Homo sapiens: one gene and its partners. The protein of the gene in region 1 purifies or fractionates together with the protein of each later gene. This does not show direct contact. Each region holds a gene or a part of one and is shown in the gene's direction. Other genes may lie near its edges.

What was found.
Region 2: the proteins of NOL12 (region 1) and DDX27 purify together in Homo sapiens (affinity purification with mass spectrometry; 3 studies listed by BioGRID and IntAct, with this or other methods). This does not show direct contact.
Region 3: the proteins of NOL12 (region 1) and ZNF689 purify together in Homo sapiens (affinity purification with mass spectrometry; 4 studies listed by BioGRID and IntAct, with this or other methods). This does not show direct contact.
Region 4: the proteins of NOL12 (region 1) and RRP8 purify together in Homo sapiens (affinity purification with mass spectrometry; 4 studies listed by BioGRID and IntAct, with this or other methods). This does not show direct contact.
Region 5: the proteins of NOL12 (region 1) and TUBA8 purify together in Homo sapiens (affinity purification with mass spectrometry; 3 studies listed by BioGRID and IntAct, with this or other methods). This does not show direct contact.
Region 6: the proteins of NOL12 (region 1) and BUD13 purify together in Homo sapiens (affinity purification with mass spectrometry; 3 studies listed by BioGRID and IntAct, with this or other methods). This does not show direct contact.
Region 7: the proteins of NOL12 (region 1) and ZNF189 purify together in Homo sapiens (affinity purification with mass spectrometry; 3 studies listed by BioGRID and IntAct, with this or other methods). This does not show direct contact.

The regions. Positions count from the first base shown.
Region 1 is NC_000022.11:37,689,343-37,691,658, forward strand, and holds part of NOL12 (nucleolar protein 12), read left to right. Parts: intron 1-1,354; coding exon 1,355-1,452; intron 1,453-1,831; coding exon 1,832-1,994; 3' UTR 1,995-2,316. UniProt on the Homo sapiens protein: Multifunctional RNA binding protein that plays a role in RNA metabolism and DNA maintenance. Participates in the resolution of DNA stress and the maintenance of genome integrity by localizing to sites of DNA insults.
Region 2 is NC_000020.11:49,232,916-49,236,415, forward strand, and holds part of DDX27 (probable ATP-dependent RNA helicase DDX27), read left to right. Parts: intron 1-390; coding exon 391-490; intron 491-652; coding exon 653-794; intron 795-2,019; coding exon 2,020-2,173; intron 2,174-3,234; coding exon 3,235-3,316; intron 3,317-3,417; coding exon 3,418-3,500. UniProt on the Homo sapiens protein: Probable ATP-dependent RNA helicase. Component of the nucleolar ribosomal RNA (rRNA) processing machinery that regulates 3' end formation of ribosomal 47S rRNA.
Region 3 is NC_000016.10:30,604,724-30,607,389, reverse strand, and holds part of ZNF689 (zinc finger protein 689), read left to right. Parts: intron 1-1,942; coding exon 1,943-2,666. UniProt on the Homo sapiens protein: May be involved in transcriptional regulation.
Region 4 is NC_000011.10:6,594,572-6,597,594, reverse strand, and holds the end of RRP8 (ribosomal RNA-processing protein 8), read left to right. Parts: 3' UTR 1-2,523; downstream 2,524-3,023.
Region 5 is NC_000022.11:18,117,309-18,120,808, forward strand, and holds part of TUBA8 (tubulin alpha-8 chain), read left to right. Parts: intron 1-3,500.
Region 6 is NC_000011.10:116,748,988-116,752,487, reverse strand, and holds part of BUD13 (BUD13 homolog), read left to right. Parts: intron 1-3,500. UniProt on the Homo sapiens protein: Involved in pre-mRNA splicing as component of the activated spliceosome. As a component of the minor spliceosome, involved in the splicing of U12-type introns in pre-mRNAs.
Region 7 is NC_000009.12:101,405,351-101,408,850, forward strand, and holds part of ZNF189 (zinc finger protein 189), read left to right. Parts: exon of another isoform or gene 1-1,948; coding exon of another isoform or gene 1,949-1,955; intron 1,956-2,061; coding exon of another isoform or gene 2,062-2,182; intron 2,183-2,578; coding exon 2,579-3,500.

The DNA.
Region 1 (2,316 bases):
GTATGAGGGTGAAAGTGGTTAATCCATGTGAGTCACCTGGCACAGTGCCCAGCCCTGTCATAAGTGCTTCACAAAAGGTAGCCGTTTGTTGTGATCGTTCCCTTTGTGCGATTCGCAGCCCTGGCACGTCTGTGTGCACTAAGTGGGTTTTCAACCTGTGGGTTGTGAATCATGAGTAGGTTGCAATCAGCATAAAAAAAAAATATAATTGAAAATATCCGAAAGTGTCATGTTAAATATTGTTTCATGAGACAGCTGTTTCCACTGGAGTTGTATCTGGGTGTGCCTAAGGATTTATGGACATATATGCACACAATTACGATATAAAACACATTTCCTTGTGTGGGTTACTGTGTTCTTAAGTCCTGGAGCCACTCCCCTATCACATCCATACTGATCTCAGGGCCAGGCATGGTGGCTCACGCCTGTAATCCCGGCATTTTGGGAGGCCAAGGCGGGCGTTATCACCTGGGGTCAGGAGTTTGAGACCAGCCTGGCCAACATGGTGAAACCCCGTCTCTATTAAAAGTAAAAAAATTAGCCAGGGGGCCAGGCGCAGTGGCTCATGCCTGTAATCCCAGCACTTTGGGAGGCCGAGGCGGGCGAATCACCTGAGGTTGGGAGTTCGAGACCAGACTGACCAACGTGGAGAAACCCTGTCTCTACTAAAAATACAAAATTAGCTGGGTGTGGTGGGACATGCCTGTAATCCCAGCTACTCGGGAGGCTGAAGCAGGAGAATAGCTTGAACCTGGGAGGTGGAGGTTGTGGTGAGCCGAGATCGTGCCATTGCACTCCAGCCTGGGCAAAAAGAGCAAAACTCCGTCTCAAAAAAAACTTAGCCAGGCATGGTGGCGTGCACCTGTAATCCCAGCTACTCGGGAGGCTGAGGCAGGAGAATTGCTTGAACTCAGGAGGCGCAGGTTGCAGTGAGCCACGATTGTGCCACTGCACTCCAGCCTGGGTGACAGAGCGAGACTCCATCTCAAAAAACAAAACAAAACAAAACCATACTGATCTCACACCGGTCTTTCATTTTATGCTCACTATTCTGCAAGTTCTGATACAAAGACAAGTCTTGTCCCCGTTTTGCTAGGATTTTCATTCCTGAATGTTTAAGTATGTCCTGGAAGCTTCTAGGGGCAGGAAAGGGTTTGGAAACAGACCTTCCCCTGTGTAATCCTTGCTTTAGGGCAGATAGACTTCTTCCATCAGAAGCCTTCTCTAGTCCCAACCCAGGCCTGTGATGCAGCAGGGCGCGCCACCACTTGCCAGAGCCATGGTGGCTCGGGGTGCCCAGCCCAGGTCCCCCCAGCTACTGCTCCATGTAAGTCATTGTCTTGTGCCTCTTTAGGGAGGGGCTGGAGACAGGTCTGAGGAGGAGGCGTCATCCACGGAGAAACCAACCAAAGCCTTGCCCAGGAAGTCCAGAGACCCCCTGCTCTCTCAGCGGTGAGTCTTGGCCTGCTGCCTCCCCGGTCCCACCCCTCCTGGCTGGCAGTAGTGACCTGGCCCTTAGGGTGGTGTGGAGCAGGTGTAGGGCCCGGAGCAGCCCTCTGCCTGTCCAGTGATCCTCTGCCTCTCCTCATTGCCCCGTCCTGTCCCACCCACCCCTGATAGTGTCTGACCTCCAGTGCTTTTCGTGCCTGGGTGAAGGGCCTGTGTCTCTGAGCTGAGTTGCTGGCAGGCACTCTGGAGGTAGAGCAGGCCAACTCTGGCATGAACTTGGCGGTCCTGGCATTCGCAACCTGTCCTGACATCCCCTCCGTGAGCCAGGTGGTGAGTCACCCCACAATGCAATCTTAAACTGAGGCTTTCTGCCCTCCCCTAGGATCTCCTCCCTCACAGCATCACTACATGCACACAGCCGCAAAAAGGTCAAGAGGAAACATCCCCGACGGGCCCAGGACTCCAAAAAGCCCCCAAGGGCCCCTCGTACCAGCAAGGCCCAGCGCCGCCGTCTCACAGGCAAAGCACGGCACAGCGGGGAGTGAGACCGAGAACGAAGCGGTGCCCCAGTCTAGGCTGCGGGGACCTGTCCTTGCTCAGCTTGGCTGTCCCTGTAGCCCAGCCTGCACCTAGGTAATGACTGCACAGCTCAAGGTTGGGAAGCCAGGACCTCTCTGGCCTGGGGCCAGCTGCCTTTGCCTGGGGTCAGCTGCCTTTGCCTGGGGTTTGAATTCCCGAAGGAGCAGGCAGCTGAGAGCAGGCCTCCCCCAGGAAGAGCCTTCAGAGCCACGTGGGGGCATCTTCCCAAATGTGCACCCCACCTGGCACTCATCAGATTTGTGCGCTTGTGATTTGTTTGTCCTTGAT
Region 2 (3,500 bases), on another chromosome or scaffold:
CTCCATCTCAAAAAAAAAAAAAAAAAGACACTTGGAACCTGGAGGCAGCTGAAGGAATTTGAACGTGGCCTGTGCTTTAGATATTCACGCACTTGAAAGTCTTGGGTGTGTTGATGAAGTTGTGTTTCTGTAAGAGAAGGTCCTAGTGCTTAGGAGTTGTGTGCTGAAATATTTGGGGTAAGGTGTTATAACATCTGTGACTGACTTGCCACAAAAAGACAAAGCAAATGTGGCAAAATGATAATTCTTGGTGAAAAGATAAAATAATAAAATAGATGAGTCCTAAATGTAACCAATGACAACAAACAGCAGCCGGTATGCAATCCCGTGTCCCTCACTGTGACCGAAGAGCACTCTCTCCATTTCTGCCATGTCTTTCTCTGCTCCCAGGATGCTGGATGAGTACTTTGAGGAGCAGATGAAGGAGATCATCCGAATGTGTTCCCACCACCGCCAGACCATGCTCTTCTCGGCCACCATGACAGACGAGGTGGGCCGAGGGACTTCTCTGTGGCGGGTGGCAGGTGTGCCCAGAGGGGGCCATGCAGAGGACCCTGGCTGGGCTTGAGGGGGTTTGCCTGGGGTGAGCACTGCTTCCTCCTTCCCTACCACCTTGCAGAGAGCTGAGGAAACCTGGCTTTGTGCTTGGCAGGTGAAAGATCTGGCTTCTGTCTCCTTGAAGAATCCTGTCCGGATATTTGTGAACAGCAACACAGATGTGGCTCCCTTCCTGCGGCAGGAGTTCATCCGGATCCGGCCTAATCGTGAAGGAGACCGGGAAGCCATCGTGGCAGGTGGCAGCACAGGGCAAGCCTGGGCAGGGTGGGCTGGTCAGCTTCCTTGAGCTCGTAGTATCCATGCTGAAGTGCTTGGTTTCCCCTGCGCCTCTGCCGTCCAGTCTTCCCCAGCGCAGAGGCTGCACTGCACTAATGATGATCCGCTGCCTCTCTTCTCCACGGGTCCTTCCTCCCTTTGCTTTATCGCCTCACCAATCCTCTTTGTGTCCTGTTCAACTCCCAACCACTTGGCATCAGCTGCTGTTGTACCCGTCAGTCCAGACCACTGTTCTCTGTCGCCTGGATCGTTGCGCAGCCTCTTGCTCGAGCTCCCTGCTTCCACTCGGCCTTTTGTGACTCTCTGCATTGCAGAGCATTTACAATGATTGCTTGCAGAAGACATTCGTACTTATTATGTCCTTATTTGAACACCCTGCGGTGGCTTCCATTGGTCTTAGACTAAAATCCAAACATCTTAGTTTTTTAGGACTCTTCGGGCCTGGCCCTTGCCTGCCCGGGATCCCAGCCTTGGAGGCTTGCTCATGGCTCCAGCCACATTCGCCTGCTTGCACTTTTTTTTTTTTTTCTTTGAGGCAGAGTCTTGCTCTGTCGCCCAGGCTGGAGTACACTGGCACGATCTTGGCTCAATGCAGCCTTTGCCTCCTGGGTTCAAACGATTCTCCTGCCTCAGCCTCCCGAGTAGCTGGGATTACAGGCACTTGCCACCACTTCTGGCTAATTTTTGTATTTTTAGTAGAGATGGGGTTTCACCGTGTTTGCCAGGCTGGTCTTGAACTCCTGGCTTCAAGTGATCTGTCCTCCTTGGTCTCCCAAAGTGCTGGGATTACGGGCATGAGCCACTACATCCAGCCGCCTGCTTGCACTTCTCACTATAAGCTGGTTCCTGCCTCCGGGCCTTCATGTTTGCCATTTCCTCTGTCTAGAATCTTCCCCTGGATCTTCCCATGGATCATCTGCCTTGTCATTCAACCTAATGTCACCTCTTCAGAGAGGCCAGCCCTTAGCTGCTTCCCCCTCGTCCCTGCACTCTCTCTCACAGCATTTTTCACCCCCCAGGAATTGGCTTCTCTGTATCCACCCTGGAATTTGAGTTCCACAGGACAGGGACAGTGCCTGTCTATCCAGTGCCAGGCACAGTGACCATACTTTGTGGATGAGGAGGGGGTACATGTTGAATAAGAGCCTAGAAACAGCTGCCAGCTCAGTCCTCTCTTCCTGCCAGCTTTGTTGACGAGGACCTTCACTGACCATGTGATGCTGTTCACGCAAACCAAGAAGCAGGCCCACCGCATGCACATCCTCCTGGGGCTCATGGGGCTGCAGGTGGGTGAGCTCCATGGCAACTTGTCACAGACGCAGCGGCTGGAGGCCCTCCGGTAACATTTGGGGTGGGGACTGAGGCTCCCACCATCCTTCTGGGGCAGAGAGGATAGAAGGAAGAAGAGGACCCTGAGCATTCTATTAGAACATTAGCAGGGGACACATAGCATGATCTTGGCCTTGAACATTTTAACCTAACCACTGTGAGGTCATGTCTTAGATGTGTTTAGAACTCTAACTTCATAGTCAGAGATGACCCTCATGTCCTTGGATGCTTGTCCCTAGCATGGGAGCTGTTGTGTGGCGTGACAGAGGAAGCTGGCTTGGAAAGGCAACACATGGTCTCTTCTTGGAAGCTTTCTGAGAGTGGTGAACATTCCTGGGTCTGATTGAACAAGATTTAGAGTCAAAGTTAGCAGCCATTACTTGAGCATCTACTTTGCCAGGCACTGTGCTGCGTGCTTTCCATGTGATTTCTTGTTTAGTCCTCAGAGAATGGCATCAAGGTGGTTGGCAAGGAGGAACCCTTTAGAACTCTCCACCTAACCCTGTTCATCAGTGGGTGCTGAAAGGTGTTTGTTAAAGATAGGCTGATTTAAACTGAGACAATTGCCTATGCTGTTAGCAGATACAGAACTACGTTTGCTCTGTATGATGGGTTGTTGAAGGGTGGGTGTAAATATCCCATGTGCTCACATTTAGAATCTATCCCTATTTTTTTTTTTTTTTGAGACGGAGTCTCGCTCTGTCGCCCAGGCTGGAGTGCAGTGGCGCAATCTTGGCTTACTGCAAGCTCCGCCTCCCAGGTTCACGCCATTCTCCTGCCTCAGCCTCCCAAGTAGCTGGGACTACAGGCGCCCGCCACCATGCCTGGCTAATTTTTTGTATTTTTAGTAGAGACGGGGTTTCACCGTGTTAGCGAGGATGGTCTCGATCTCCTGACCTCGTGATCTGCCCACCTCGGCCTCCCAAAGTGCTGGGATTACAGGCGTGAGCCACCGTGCCCAGCCTCTATCCCCATTTTAATGCCCTGTTCTGTCCTCTGCTGGCTCAGGCTCTTGTGGAGCATTATTAGGGGAGGGTGTCTGGATGAACAGCTGTTTGTGACTGTTTCTAGGCGTTTTAAGGATGAACAGATTGACATCCTCGTGGCCACTGATGTGGCAGCCCGTGGACTTGACATTGAGGGGGTCAAAACGGTGAGCAGACACTATCTTCCTTGGACTTTTGGTGGAAGTCTTTTTGCCTCTTCGCACCCCCCTTCCCTTGCCAGGCCTGACGTTCATTTTTGACCTTCTAGGTAATCAACTTCACAATGCCTAATACCATCAAACATTATGTCCACCGGGTGGGGCGAACAGCACGTGCTGGCAGGGCTGGGCG
Region 3 (2,666 bases), on another chromosome or scaffold:
CGAACTCCTGACCTCACAGTCCGCCCACCTTGGCCTCCCAAAGTGCTGGGATTATAGGAATGAGCCACTGCGCTTGGCTGGGACTTACGTTTCTAACACTGCATAATTTTAATTCTTTTTTTTTTTTTTTTTTTTTTTTTTGAGATGGAGTCTCACTCTGTCATGCAGGCTGGAGTGCAATGGCGTGATCTTGGCTCACTGCAACCTCCGCCTCCCAGGATCAAGTGATTCTCCCACCTCAGCCTCTGGGTAGCTGGGATTATAGGCACCTGCTATTGTGCCCAGCTAATTTTTATATTTTTGTAGAGACGGGGTTTCACCATGTTGGCCAGGCTGGTCTTGAACTCCTGACCTCAGGTGATCCGCCTGCCTCAGCCTCCTAAAGTGCTAGGATTACAGACATGAGCCACCACGCCCAGCCACATTTTTTAAAGAATCAGCTAAGTCAAATAAACCATCCACAATGGAATTCTGTGTAGCTGTAAAATAGAAAAAAGATTTGCTGACATAAAATGATCTTTAGAATATATTAAGTGAAAAAATGTAAAGTGTGTATAAGGTGTGTATATGTTGTCTTTTGTATAAGAAAGGTGAGCTGGGCATGGTGGCTCACGCCTGTAGTCACTTTGGGAGATAGAGGTGAGCAGATAACCTGAGGTCAGGAGTTCGAGACCAACCTGGCCAACATGGTGAAACCCTGACTCTACTAAAAATACAAAAAATTAGCTGGGCATAGTGGTGCATGCCTGTAATCCCAGCTACTTAGGAGGCTGAGGCAGGGAGAATCACTTGAACCCGGGAGGCGGAGATTTCAGTGAACTGAGATCACACCATTGCACTCCAGCCTGGGTGACAGAGCGTGACTCTGTCTCAAAAAAGAAAAAAAAAAAGAAAGGTGGGGAAGAGAACATACGCTGTAAAGCATGTGTATGCAATCTCTTATGAAAGAAAGATAGGGAAGGTGACATTTGTATTGCATCAAAAAAATGGGAAAAAACTAATATGGTTTCTACAAGGTAGATTGGAAAAAGGTGGCAGCAAGACTTCTCTGTATTCCTTTATTAATATTTTGACTTGTTTGTTTTTTGAGATAGGGTCTTGCTGTGTTGCCCAGGCTGGAGTACAGTGGTGCCATCATGGTTCACAGTAGCCTTGAACTCCTGGGCTCAAGTAATCCTCTACCTCAGCCTTCCAAGTAGCTAGGACTACAGGCAGGCACGCGTGCCACCAGGCCAGGCTAATATTTGTATTTTTTGTAGAGATGGGGTCTCACTATGCTGCCCAGGCTGATCTTGAACTCCTGGGTTCAAGCGATCTCTTGCCTTGGGCTCCCAAAGTGCTGGGATTACAGGCATGAGCAACCATGCCTGGCTGATATTTTGACTTTTGAATGATGTAAGCTTACCTCTTCAAAAATATTCCTTTTTTTTTTTTTTTTGAGATGGAATCTCGCTCTCTCGCCCAGGTTGGAGTGCAGTGGCACAATCTCGGCTCACTGCAACCTCTGCCTCCCGGGCGATTCTCCTGCCTCAGCCTTCTGGGTAGCTGGGATTACAGGTGCGTGCCACCACGCCCGGCTAATTTTTGTATTTTTAGTAGAAACAGGGTTTCACCATGTTGGTCAGGCTGCTCTCAAACTCCTGACCTTGTGATCTGCCCGCCTCGGCCTCCCAGTGCTTACGATTACAAGCGTGATCCACTGTGCCCGGCCTCAATTTTTAAAGTTAGTTTAATCTCCGAGAAATCTTCCTAGACTTCTCCAAGCTGGGTTAGAAGCTCCTGTAATGCACACCGTATTTGCATGACAGTATGTCACACTTAGCTGTCTGTGGCACTAGGAATTGAGACCAGGGGGTGAGTCTATTGGTCTTGTAACCTATAATGTAATTGACAAGAGCAGGAGCCCAGTATTTGTTAAATTAATGCTTCTGTATTTCTATAGAAAGCAGAACCAGAAAGAAGAATGGGGAGAAGGAAGTATTCCCGCCTAAGGAGGCACCCCGAAAGGGGAAGCGAGGCCGGAGGCCCAGCAAACCCCGACTGATTCCTAGGCAGACGTCCGGGGGCCCCATCTGCCCTGACTGCGGCTGTACCTTCCCTGATCATCAGGCCCTGGAGAGCCACAAGTGCGCCCAGAATCTAAAAAAGCCTTACCCTTGCCCAGACTGTGGGCGCCGCTTTTCCTATCCATCCCTGCTGGTCAGTCACCGGCGGGCACACTCCGGCGAGTGCCCCTATGTTTGTGACCAGTGTGGCAAACGTTTCTCCCAGCGCAAGAACCTCTCCCAGCACCAGGTCATCCATACAGGGGAGAAGCCCTATCACTGCCCTGACTGTGGTCGCTGCTTCCGGAGGAGCCGGTCCTTGGCCAATCACCGGACCACACACACAGGTGAAAAACCCCACCAGTGCCCTAGCTGTGGACGTCGCTTCGCCTACCCCTCCCTGCTAGCCATCCACCAGCGTACACACACGGGAGAGAAGCCCTACACTTGCCTCGAGTGCAACCGCCGCTTCCGCCAGCGCACGGCCCTCGTCATCCACCAGCGCATCCACACGGGCGAGAAGCCCTACCCGTGCCCGGACTGCGAGCGGCGCTTCTCCTCCTCCTCTCGCCTGGTCAGTCACCGGCGTGTGCACTCTGGGGAGCGTCCCTATGCCTGCGA
Region 4 (3,023 bases), on another chromosome or scaffold:
TTTTTTTTTTATGGGAGGATGGGCAGGTTGTTAGCTGTCGAGTGCTATTGAGATGAGAGAGAACTCAGAATGCAGTGGGGTAAGGATTGCTGAGTAATGTGGAGGGCCTGTTTGAGGTAAATGGCAGTGGTAAGAGGTTGCTCCATTATGAAAGCCCTCTTCCAGAGTTCCTGATAGGGCCCCAGAAGTTCATTTCTGATTGCTTTGATTTTTTTTCAGGGGAGCAGGAAGCCAGTTTATCATTTGAGAGTGAGAATAGGGGAGAGGAAATATCTTCCAGGCCCACAGTGCATAGAAATACCCAGTCAGGGCAAAATGATTTATCTGTTTACCTCTCCTCATCACTTGGGCCCAGAGCAATCAGCAGTGATTAGGTAGAGAGGAGCCGAGCAGAGGGAAGAGCATACCAATCACTCCTCCCTTTCCCAGTGCAGGCTCCTAGACTTAGCTGGGGCAGAGCTGGGAGAGGAAAAAGGGATTTAAAACTGCAACAGGTGCAGATTATTGTTACACAGGATTAGACATTCTAATTAATTGAGATTATGTTTGTTCCTTAAACTGATCACAGGACTATCTATTAAGAACATCACAACCTCGCTGCAGCTTTTCTCCATAGCAGGGAGAGTACCTCCCAGTGAATAAAATTTGGAGGGTGGTAAGAGACAAGAATAAAATTGGGTTTGGTTATCCGTGCCTCATGCTTGTTCAGCATCCCTTTGAGAGTTCTCCAAATAAATAGTTACTGCTTCTGCAGTTATTGGTGTGCTCCAGCTTCTGTTCCCATAATATAGTCCAGTCCTAAGGGAACACAGTTCTAAAAGAAACAACATGATCTTGGCAGAGACACCGCTCAGCTCCAAACCCAACCATTTATGTAACTGCACAAAACTCTCTACAGCTTTTCACAGAGACCAGTAATTAGAACCTTTCATCCCCTGGTCATCCTCCTTCCCAGGTGAATTCTCTGACCAGCCATCTGGTTTTAGGATACCCAACTCCTGCAGTAACTGCCTTACTGGTGGTCTAATTGCTTCTACTCGTGTCCCTAAAGCAATTAATTTTCCACACAGCCATGTGATCTTTTTAAAATGTAAATCAGCTTATGTCACTTCTCTGCTTAAAATCCTTCAATGGATTCTCACTGCCTCGAGAACAAAAGACAAACTTTTCAGGCCCCGTGTGATCTTGCCCAGGCCTCCGTCACCATCACCATCTGCATCTTAACCCACTCCTCCCCTTTCACAAAACTCCAGCCACACAGACTTGCTTTTTATTCCTCAAGCTTTCCAAACTGTTTCTACTGAGAGTCTTTGCACATGCTCCATCTTCCTTGAATACTCTTTCCCCAGTGAGCTCATTTTCATCTTCCTGAATTCATACCACTATTACCTTTGCTTCTGTGGAAGAAACTGGCCAGATGCTCACCCAAATGTCCTCTTTCTGGACACAGGTAAACTGCATTTCCCAGCTCCATGCATCTAGGCCTATGTGAGTAGTTCTCAACAGTGGAAAATGAGTGGAAGTGATGTTTCAATACTAGACCAAGGCAGTTAAAGGGTGGCTGAGCCATTTCCATTATTCTCTTCCTCCTTCCTCTTCAAGGTAACCTTGAAGCACATGTTTTGACGGTGATGGAGTCATAGCATAGAAGAAGTCTGAATACCTGAGTTACTATTTAGGGCATAATAGCTACTTGACCAAAAACATCCATATTGGACTTTGAACAAGAAAATAAACTTGATTACATTCTGCTAGTGAGTTTTGAGGGTGTTTTAGCAGTTATCATTATATACACTGGATATATCTTCTATGGTATCCTGTCCACCTTACTCTTGACCACAGTACCCTCTTTGTTTCCTTCAGGGTGTTTCAGATATTTAATTATCTTGCCAGATGCCAGTCAACACTTTCTTTTTGTCCCATGAGTTTAAAATCAGGGGAAAACATGTACTCCCAATAGGAAGTTGAGATACTCTTTTTTTTTTAAATCCGTCATTGTGACTGTGACCGGAAAAACAAATCCCACTAAAGAATGTCCTAAACAGATGTTTTTTTTTGTCATATAACCTGGAGTTAGGTGATTTGGCATTGGTTCTGGAGCTGAAGGATGTTAGGGATGAGGTCTCTGTAGTTTTCTTGTCTCATGGTCACGAAATGAAGTGTTATTGATTAAGCAGGGATGCCCTACTTAGTATTAGACTTCTTGGAAGTCTCCTTAATTGCCACAGCCCCTATCTTTTTGGCTTCGTTTCAAGGGTCCTTCTACATTGTTAATACTCTGGTATAAATACGTTCCATTATTCCCTATAACATGACTGAAACCAATCTAAAGTATTAACATTTTAAATATGTTTTTGGGCCAAGTGCAGTGGCTCTTATCTGTGATCCCAGCTACTAGGAAGGCTGAGGTGGGAGGATTGCTTGAGCCCAGGAATTTCAGGCTGTAGTGAGCTATGATTGTGCCACTGTACTCCGGCCTGGATAACTGAGATCCTGTCTCAATAAATAAATAAAACAATTATATATATGTATAATATATAATATTATATATACATATGTATGTATGATGCTTTTCATCCCCACCCTTTCCCACATCTCAGGAACCTGTCAGCAACTTATCCAGTTTAAAGCTGCTGTTCCTCTACCTCAGTGGTTTGGGAGAACATGGTCATTATTTCACTCATTCTTTACTTCCTGTCTCTTCTAGGATTGGAATGGGGGAGGGCATATTAAACGAAGAAAGTCTCAGCTTACGTGATTAAGGTACCATTGGTGTGTTCTGTGCAGACAGGCATTTAACTGTTGACTCCTTTGTGAGCTCTTGGGGTTCTCTGGAGCTCTCCATGAGGACTGGGGCACTAACTGACTTTGGTTGCCTCTTTTTGATGCACAGCCCACACTGCCCTTCAGCTCTTCAGCCCCTGACCCTGACAATGTACCCACAGCCTCCTCGTGCTAAAGTGCTTCACCCTTGTACGCAGCTCTCCTGGGAATGGTCCCAACAAACCCTCAAGACTGGTTAC
Region 5 (3,500 bases), about 20 Mb from region 1:
ATTTTTATGAATACGCTGAACAAAGCAAATCAGTTTATTTGTCCCCCAAATATTTTGATTTGTTCAAACAAGAATTCAGTCAGAGTCCCCATGATGCGTGTGGTGGTGCTTGGTGGTGCCTTAGTTCCTTTGACATGGGACAGCCCCTCCCAGCTCTTCATTTCTCATGAGTTGAAAAGGCTGGGCCAGGCCCGATGGCTCACGCCTGTAATCCCAGCACTTTGGGAGGCTGAGGCAGGTGGATCACGAGGTCAGGAGATCGAGACCATCCTGGCTAACATGGTGAAACCCTGTCTGTACTAAAAGAATACAAAAAATTAGCCGGGTGTGGTGGCGAGCGCCCGTAGTCCCAGCTACCTGGGAGGCTGAGGCAGGAGAATGGTGTGAACCCGGCAGGCGGAGCTTGCAGTGAGCCGAGATCGCACCACTGCACTCCAGTCTGGGCGTCAGAGTGAGACTCCGTCTCAAAAAAAAAAAAAAAAAAAGAAAGTAAATAAAAAAAATTAAGAAAAAAAAAGGCTGGACCAGCTGCCCTGTAGGATGTCTCACCTTCTGGATTGATTTTGTTTTCTCTGATATCACTGAACTTAATTAACCCTCTGATCCCTGTGTTTCCTGTGAAGTGGAAACTGAATCTACAGGGCTCAGTGATGAGGGCTGAGTATTTTTGAGAAGAAGTCCTCACTGGTGGTGTGTGTGTCACATTGCGTCCCATCAGGAGGTCCTCGATGTCGGGTTGGCCCACAGTTAGCGATGCTGAGATTGATCGCGGCCTTAGGCTGGCGACCCTGGTAGTTACGTCCCCCCTTGTGACTATAACAGTGGTTCTTTGGCTCTCGGCGAAGATCCAGTTCCCCATCAGTCTTTCACCTAATGGTGTTGGCGTTCTTGTCCAAATCAATCACGTAATTAGAAGATGGAATAGGGCAATATTTGATAATCTATTATTCGGTCCACATTGCTTAGCAGACATTCTTCAATTAAAGAAAAAAGAGCCTTCTCTAACTAACGGGGCTGTCTGGATAGGGACAAATGAGTTTTTCTCTGGGGGTTTTCTTTGAGGACTTGTGGGTTTTCATCTTGCATCCTGCTTCACTCAAATGCTGCCATCAGTACTTGTGAGGCTCAGGTTGTCTCATCTTAGGCAGCAGGAGCCTCTTCAGGTGCTTGGGCAGCCCCTTGGTTAGCCTCCGTGCCTCCAGGCGCTATGCGACATTCCAGGCTCATCTAGCACACTCCCCACCCTGGACCTGGACGCCTCCGTCTCTCCAAGGAGCCCAGTTCCTGTTAGCAGGGATCTTCCTTCTCTCTTGATTGGTGTAGCTACTTTTCACTTTTGAGAGCACCTATGAATCTGTCAGTCATTTCTGAGTCTATTTTATGCCTCCAATTATTCTTATGAGCTAGTTCAATAGGAAAAATAGCTCTTTCTAAGGGGTGTGTGTGTTTGCACGACGGGGGCGGGGGAGAGAGAAAGAGACAGACATTTTGTAAAAGACTGGCATATGTATTAGTGTGAGATTAATGAGGGCATTAAAAGAGGCTAAAGACGTTGTCACCATGCTAGTGGTTTTCAGGTCCCCCAAATCCTTGACTCTTCCTCCCATGATCTTCGATTTTCCCAAAATATCCCTGCGTCCTCCCTGGAAAGCCCCAGAATGTTCCAGAAGTGAGAGCAGGCTGGGGGCCGGGCAGCACTGTAGGCAGGACTAGAGGGTGGTCGGGATGCGGTGGTGGTGAGGGGGCGACAGACCCAGAAGGCTGAGGGTTAGGACCACAGAGGACACTGTCACTTAGAAGGAAAATACATAGGATCAGGCCCCCCTCGGGCCTCTCCAGTGTCCCCTCAGCTTCCACACCTCCCTGGGAAGTCACAGCCACATGCTGAATGTGACGCCGTGGTCTGGGTGGATAACTCGCTGGTTGTGGGTGGTTTCTGGATGCAGATGCTGCTTTCCTTAGGCCTGAATTGAGCCCTCAGATGGAGGCAGAGAATAGACCCCACAATAAAGGAGAGAGGAGCAGGGACCTGAGAGCTCCCTCTACGTGTGCTACTTCCCGGTGCAGAAAAATGCTACCAGGTAGTACCGTAATGAAAATGATAATGGCAAGACAGCATCAACAACTGTGGCTAACTTACACTTTTCAGATGAGGAGAGGCTCAGTAACTCAGCCCAGGCCACACAGCACAGCAAGTAAATTGAGAAGGCAACATGGGAACCTGGGGCCGTGGGCAGCTCTGTGGGTGAATCCCCTCCCTAGCCACCAGGCTCACGGAGATCCAGCGGGTTGCGACCCCCGTCGGGCTGCCCCACGCTCACCCCTGTGCTCATCCTCCCTCAAGGCAAGGACCAGGTGTCGCTCAGCTGTAGCACAGAGACAGGACTAGAGTGGGGGCACAGTTGTAAAATTGAACTAGGGGGCAATGGTCCTGATGCTCTGACCCCGCAAGATGCTACTCAGGGCAGCTGCCCTGCTCTCCATGCCCAGAATTTCTTCCACGTCTCCAGGAGCCCCACACTTTGACGTGGACTCTACTGGCTTCTGTGCCCAGCCGTGCCCTCTGGAGGCTCTGCCCCTGGCTTGGGTTACCCGGAGCTGGAAAATGCCAGGGCAGGTCATGGGTAAAAATAGAAACCCACAGACCTGGCACATGCTTCCTGCTGGGCTCAGGCGGCTGCCCCAGGCACAGTGTCGCCTTGTGTGGGCCACTGCTTCCCCAGGGCAGGGTGTGGGTGGGAGGATGAGTCTATCACGCCTACGTGTGCACGTGCACACACACACACACACACTGTCTCTCTCCCCACCCCCCTTTTTCTTTAATAATTTCAACTTTTATTTTAGATTCAGGGAGTACATATGCAGATTTCTTACATGGGTATATATTGTGATGCCAAGGTTTGGGGTACGATTAATCCTGTCACCCAGGTAATGAGCATAGTACCCAATAGTTAGTTTTCCAATCTTTGCCCGCTTCTTCCCTCCCCGCTCCAGTAGTGCCCAGTGTCTACTCTTGCCATTTTTCTGTCCATGAGTACCCATGTTTAGCTCCCACTTATAAGAACATGTGGTATTTGGTTTTCTATTCCTGCATTAATTTGCTTAGGATAATGACCTCCAGCTGCATCCATGTTGCTGCAAAGGATATGGGTTCATTCTTTTTTGGGGGCTGCGTAGTATTCCATGGTGTATATGAATGACATTTTCTGTATCCAGTCTACCATTGCTGGGCACCTGGTTGATTCCGTGTCTTTGCTGTTGTGAATAGTGCTGTGATGAACGTGTGAGTGCAGGTGTCTTTTTGGTAGGATGATTTTCTTTTGGATATATACCCAGTAACAGGATTGCTGAGTGAAATGGTAGTTCTGAGTTCTTTGAGAAATCTCCAAACTGCTTTCCACAGTGGCTGAACCAATTTACATTCCCATCAGTGCACTCCCCATCTTAAGCTGTTAGTACGAATACCAATCAGGCAATTGTGGCTTCACATCAGCTTTACT
Region 6 (3,500 bases), on another chromosome or scaffold:
AATTTGTCTTCATTTTTCTCAGTTGCTTTTTTCCACTTCTTGTTCTGATTTTATCCTAGATTTCTTCTCTTATTTCCCTTTGTCACCCTTGCTTTCTTTTTGTTATTCATCTTTCATCATCTTTTCTAGTTTTGTCTCTTTTCGGCCTGCTGCAAGGGAATATTTCCGGAACAGATATATAGTATCTGTTGGAAAAACCCATAAGATAATTACCCAGCCTCTCTTAATTGAAAGAGAAACGGGGCCGGGTGCGGTGGCTCATGCCTATAATCTCAGCACTTTGGGAGGCCGAGGCGGGCAGATCACGAGGTCAGGAGATTGAGACCATCCTGGCTAACATGGTGAAACCTCGTCTCTACTAAAAAAAATACAAAAAATTAGCTGGGCGTGGTGGCGGGCGCCTGTAGTCCCAGCTGCTCGGAAGGCTGAGGCAGGAGAATGGCGTGAACCCGGGAAGCGGAGCTTGCAGTGAGCCGAGATCGTGCCACTGCACTCCAGCCTGGGCAACAGAGCAAGACTCCGTCTCAAAAAAAAGAGAAACTGAGGCCCAATAAATAAGCAGTTTGCCTAGAGTCATGCAATTTCCCTGAGAAAGCTGGAATTAGAACTCTGCGTTCCTGATTCTCTGGTCCAAAGCTCTTTCCACTGTGAGTTCTCCTGCAATTTGTTTTCTGATTCTGCTTAGGATTTGGTGTTTGTTATTCATATGTCCTTTGTATTATCATATTAGTGTAACTCTCTTAAGACCTTATTTCCAAGGTAAAAAACAGTGGTTTCCTTGGTGCTTTGGAATACCATCCATGCTTCTAAGGTTGGAGAGGATGCCATTTATAATAAGCTTCCCTTCTTTTTTTTTTGAGACGGAATTTCGCTCTTGTTGCTCAGGCTGGAGTGCAAAATGGCACGATCTTGGCTCACTGGAACCTCCGCCTCCTAGGTTCAAGCAATTCTCTTGCCTCAGCCTCCCGAGTAGCTGGGATTACAGGCGTGAGCACCACGCCCAGCTAATTTTTGTATTTTTAGTAGAGACAGGGTTTCACCATGTTGGCCAGGCTGGTCTCGAACTTCTCATCTCAGGTGATTCACCTGCCTCGGCCTCCCAAAGTGCTGGGATTACAGGCGTGAGCCACCATGTCCGGCCAAGCTTCCCTTCTTAAAGCCCTCTGTTACTCACTCCACTCATCCCTTAAGGGAAAGTCTTAGCATACATGTTATAAGTGTAAGCAGCTAGGTAGTAGGTACTAGGGATTCCATGATTAAAGAGAGATAGCCCCTGAGCCCAGGAGCTCACTTTCAATCTAGAATAGAAGACAGACAGTTTCAACGCTGTTTGGTTAGTGTTACTATAGAAGATTTTCAAGATGTTTTGGGAGCACAAAGGAAGAGTAAGTTGAGCCTTAGGAGGATGTGAGTGATCAGGAAGTGCTTCCTAACGGATGAAATGTGGGAGCTGAGTTTTAAGGGATGTTGGTAACCAGCCAAGATAAGAAGGAAAGGAAGGATATTAAAGGAAGAGGGTCCTATATGTGCAGAGTCATAAGGCTATGAGACACCATGGTGTTACCAGGTGGTGGGGGTCCCTAAGTAATTTGCTGTTGTTGGATAGCATAAAGCGTGAGATGGATGAGAGAGGTTGGCAGACCGTGATCACAGAAGGCCCTGGAAGCCTATCTGAGGAGCTTGGTCTTCACCCTAGAGGTAAAGGGGAGACACGGAAGGATTAAAAACAGCTCTGCATTTTAGATAGACAAATCCATTATAGCAGTAATATGAAGGATTTGAAAGGTACAAGATTGGAAGTAGAACAGATACAAGGCTTTTGCAGTAGCTCAGGCTGAAAGTAATGAGTGTCTGAACTACGACTTGCAGGCAGTGGTAGTAAGGATGGTTAGTAAGAGAATAGGAAGTGGGGATGTGGTCAGGGGTGAGCTGGTGGGACCTGTTTGCTGATTTGGGGAAGAGGAAGGAGGAGTCATTGGATTTGGCAACAAGGAATGTCAGTGATGACCTGAAAGGGCTAGTTCCGTTGTGTAGTGAAACAATGGCCAGGTTCTAATGTATTAAGGAGTGAATGAAAAGTGAGGAAACAAATAGTGAATACAGGCTTTTTAAGAAGTTTAGATAAGAAGACCAAGAGAATGCATGGTAATTAAAGGGATTTGAGGTCCACTCACTACCTCCTTGAAATTCACCCCTGTATTGTTTTCCATGACACCCTACTCCTGGTTCTTTTCTCTGATCATTCTTGGCCACCTTTGCAAACTCCTCTTCCTCTGTGCACCTCTTAAGTCTTTCCCAGGGCTCCATCCATAATTTTTAGCTGTTCTCACTCTATGTGCTCCCTCTGGCTGATTCTTACCTAGTCATGTTTTCAACTATGACCTATATGTACATGATTTCCAAATCAGTATTTGCATCTTGGTCTGGTGTATTTAGCTGTTTGTTGGATTTCTCTATTGATTTAGACTTGAGAGATTTCAAATGCATTGTATTCAAAGCTGAACTCATCAGCTTCTACTGTAAGCCTGCTCCTACTCTTGTGCTCTCTAACTTGCCTCCTCCTTCTTTGTCCTTGTGTACCTAATCAATTAGTGCTGCTAATTAGTCTTACTAATTTTGCCTCCTGTGTCTTCTCTCTTCCGTCCCTCTTTATCATTGCCTTCATCATCTGTTGCCTGGACCATTGCAGTGATTTTCCTGCCCCAGATCCCCTCCAGAGTGATCTCTTTGAAATGCAGTTTAAGTTCTTGCTTTAAACCCATCGTTTCTGGATGAAATCTAAGCTTTTTACCATGGCCTACGCAGCTCATTATGCATTGGCCTCTGCGCCTTTCCAACTTTGACTCATGGCTGTTCCCTTTGTCATACTTCAGGTTCCAGCCATACCAGTTTGCCTTTGGTTTGCTGCACATACCAGGCCACTTCTTATTTCCGTGCCTTTGTTCTTGTTGCTCATTCTGTTCTGAAATGACCTCCAGACCCTTTCTGGCCCTTCCATCCCCAGTGCTGTAGTTAACACAGAGCCTTTACTGATCATTCTTGCCCAACCCTCATGTCACCTTTTTATCATACCTCCCCCAAGCTGATTAAGATACCCATTCTGTTTCCATGACACCCCATGCGTATTTCTACCAGAGTTTATGCTGTTCTTTTAATTTATTTGTTTAAATGTCTCTCTCTTCCACTAGTCTGGGAGTTCATCAGGACAGGTGCTGTGTCATACTCATTTTCATGTAGTGTCTACCATGGTACCTAGTATATAATGAAAATTCAATAAATGTTTGTGTAATGAATGGATAAAATATAAGATGTGGACATCAGCTGAGAGAGAACCAGGCTTTTAGAGTGGCAAACGTTTGAAATAGCTGTCAGAGTGGGGGAAGGGTGTGAACAAGGACTAAGAAAAGGATGAATGATATATTTTGTCCCTTTGATTCTATTGCATATGCCTTAAATATTTTCTTTTCTTTTTTGTTTCTTTCTTTCTTTTTTTTTTTTTT
Region 7 (3,500 bases), on another chromosome or scaffold:
AGGTGCTAGAGAGAAATCCAGGATTTGGATGATTGATTAACGTGAGAAGAAGGGAGAAATACAGGATGATTGCTGCTTTGAGACTATAGGGTAATGGATGATGGTGCCTTTCAAGAGATAATTAAAGGTGGGGAAAGGCATGAAAGCAGATGATGATGACCATGTTAATTGTGAGCCCTTTGTGAGGCATTTAACTGGAGATATCTGGAGGGTGTATATACAGAACAAGTAAGGATGTAAATGTGGGTAACAATAACAAAAGTCAGTTGACAAAGGAAAAGAAATAAATGAGGGAAATTTATCAGAAAAGGCCAAAGAAGTAGGGAAGGAAATAAAAGAATGTGGTAGTGTAGAAACCAAAAACAGATAATGTCAAGAAATAGGGGTGGTCAACAGTGTTAGATGCTGCTGAATAACATAAGGACTGAAACATGCCCATTTTAGGCCAGGCACGGTGGCTCACTTCTGTAATCCCAGCACTTTGGGAAGCTGAGGTGGGTGGATCACCTGAGGTCAGAGTTCGAGACCAACATGGTGCCCCATCTCTACTAAAAATGCAAAAAAATTAGCTAGGCACAGTGGCGGGTGCCTGTAATCCCAGCTACTTGGGAGGCTGAGGCAGGAGAATTGCTTGAACCCGCGAGGTGGAGGTTGTAGTGAGCCAAGATCACTCCAGCCTGGGCAATAAGAGTGAAACTCTGTCTCAAAAAAAAAAAAAAAATGCCCGTTTTATTTTTATTTGAGTCATTGGTAATCTAATGAGAAGTTTCTCTAGATGCTGGAAACAGAAACCAGATTTCGCCACAGGTTGCAGAATAGATTGAATAGGAAGAGGTTGGGCTTGGAAAACATAAGAAATAGAAAACCTCGGTGTTAAGATTTTTTTTCAATGCTTGGCTTTCATAAAGAGAAGGATTTCAGGTTCAAGATAAAATTGGACATATTTATGTAATGGTAGGAAAGTGTCAATAGAGAGTGTGTATTGAAGAAAGAGGAAAGACGGGATAATTAAGCAAATGCCCAGAGGTGAGTAGGATCGGTAAGTGATGGATGGATTAGCCTTGCATAAGAATCAGATATATCTTTATGTACCATTGGCAGATAATTTTATAGGTAGAGGACAGAAAGTTGAGGGAGTTCTTTCATGTTTTTTCATTATGTGAAAGAAAATACAGCCCACTGAAAAATTTGAGAGGGGACACTAAAAAGCCTTAGAAGAAATAAAATTTCTAGTAGTTTCTTAGGGGAATAGGAAAAGGTTATTTTAGAATAAAATAATGAAGTAAGCAAATAGAAAATTCAAAGATGACTCCACAAAAAATTGAGAGAAAAGAGGATGTATGAAAAAGGAGCTTGTTTAGGGCCAAATATAAATGTGGTCATTATTGAATCTTCTAGCGGAATTATCTAATATCTATTCCAGCAAGAGATGGAAAATCAGGAAGATGTCCGAAGCGGGCCTAGATGTACTATATGACACTCTGTTATATCATAGACCACTGTGCTGTCTTTTCTTCAACACATGCAAGATTTTCATTTCTCAGATGTCATGCAGCCTCTCAGTTGGAACAAGATGGTGAACCTTGGGTCTTATATTGTTAGAGGGTTTAGAATCACATGTACTTGAGGTATGATTTGTGGTAGGTAAAGTCATAAGCTACCACAGACTGCCCTTTTTGGTTGTTGCTCCCATGAACTCTGACCATGTTTCTTAATACTTATTTTATTCTGCATCTCGATATCATAGACTCTCTGTCACCTAACCCTTTATTATTGTTTTTAAAAGCCATTTTGTCTCTTTATACAGGAGCTGCTTTTTACTTAATATTTTCTTTATCATATTATTTTCTTTCCCCATTTTTTACTTAACATCCATTCCATTTGGCAGGGGGGCTTCATGTCTTATCTCTGAATCCTGGCTGATTACAATGTTTCTGGAGTGCTTTTGATGGGCAGTGAGTAAATGCTTGTTAATGAATGAATTATTGTTTCCCCTGGATCTTTGTCTTTTATCCTTCTTAGCATCTTTTTTTATTTTTATTTTTATTTTTTTGAGATTAGGTCTCACTCTATTGCCTAGGCTGGTGTGCAGCGACGCAAACACAGCTTGCTGCAGCCTCAACCTGTTGGGCTTAAGTGATCAATCCTCCCACCTCAGCTACCTGAGTAGCTGGGACTACAGGTGTGTACCACCATGTCTGGCTAATTAAAAAAAAATTTTTTTTTTGTAGAGATGAAGTCTCACTGTTGCCCAGGCTGGTCTCAAACTCCTGAGCTCAAGTGATCCTCCCACCTCACTCTCCCAAAATGCTGGGATTACAGGCATGAGCCACTATGCCTGGCCATTAGCATCTGGTCCCTTCTGTTAATTATTTGGTCTGATCATATTCCAATAATGCTTTCTCATCCTTAATTTTCTTGAACTTAGTGGAGTTTTTTTTCATCCTACCCTGTTTTCCTTGATAGACTGATTAATCCCACCTTGACTTTATTTGTTTCTTTGTTTGCCCATCTTACTTTGTTTCTCCTTGCTTCAAAGACCTTGGTTGATCTTTGTATTTCCTTTTTATTATTCCAGATGTTTTGAACAGAGATAAGGATGAGGAGCCAACTGTAAAACAAGAGATTGAAGAAATTGAGGAAGAAGTGGAACCACAGGGTGTAATAGTTACAAGAATCAAAAGTGAAATTGACCAGGATCCTATGGGTAGAGAAACATTTGAACTTGTTGGTAGGTTAGATAAACAAAGAGGGATCTTCCTATGGGAAATACCAAGGGAATCTTTGACCCAGGAACAGAGAATGTTCAGAGAAAACACTAACATTATCCGTAAAAGACCAAACTCAGAAGAGAAATGCCATAAATGTGAAGAATGTGGAAAGGGTTTTGTCCGCAAGGCCCATTTCATTCAACATCAAAGGGTCCATACTGGTGAGAAACCTTTTCAGTGCAATGAATGTGGGAAAAGTTTTAGTCGCAGTTCATTTGTTATTGAACATCAGAGAATTCACACTGGGGAAAGGCCCTATGAGTGTAATTACTGTGGAAAAACCTTTAGTGTGAGCTCAACCCTTATTAGACATCAGAGAATCCACACTGGAGAAAGACCCTATCAGTGTAATCAGTGTAAACAGAGCTTCAGCCAGAGAAGGAGCCTTGTTAAACATCAAAGGATTCATACAGGTGAGAAACCCCATAAATGTAGTGACTGTGGGAAAGCCTTCAGTTGGAAATCACACCTTATTGAGCATCAAAGAACTCACACTGGTGAGAAACCTTATCACTGTACCAAATGTAAGAAGAGCTTTAGTCGAAATTCATTGCTTGTTGAGCATCAAAGAATTCACACTGGGGAAAGACCCCATAAATGTGGTGAATGTGGGAAAGCCTTTCGATTAAGCACATACCTTATACAACACCAAAAAATTCACACTGGCGAGAAGCCTTTTCTTTGTATTGAGTGTGGAAAAAGTTTCAGTCGGAGCTCATTCCTTATTGA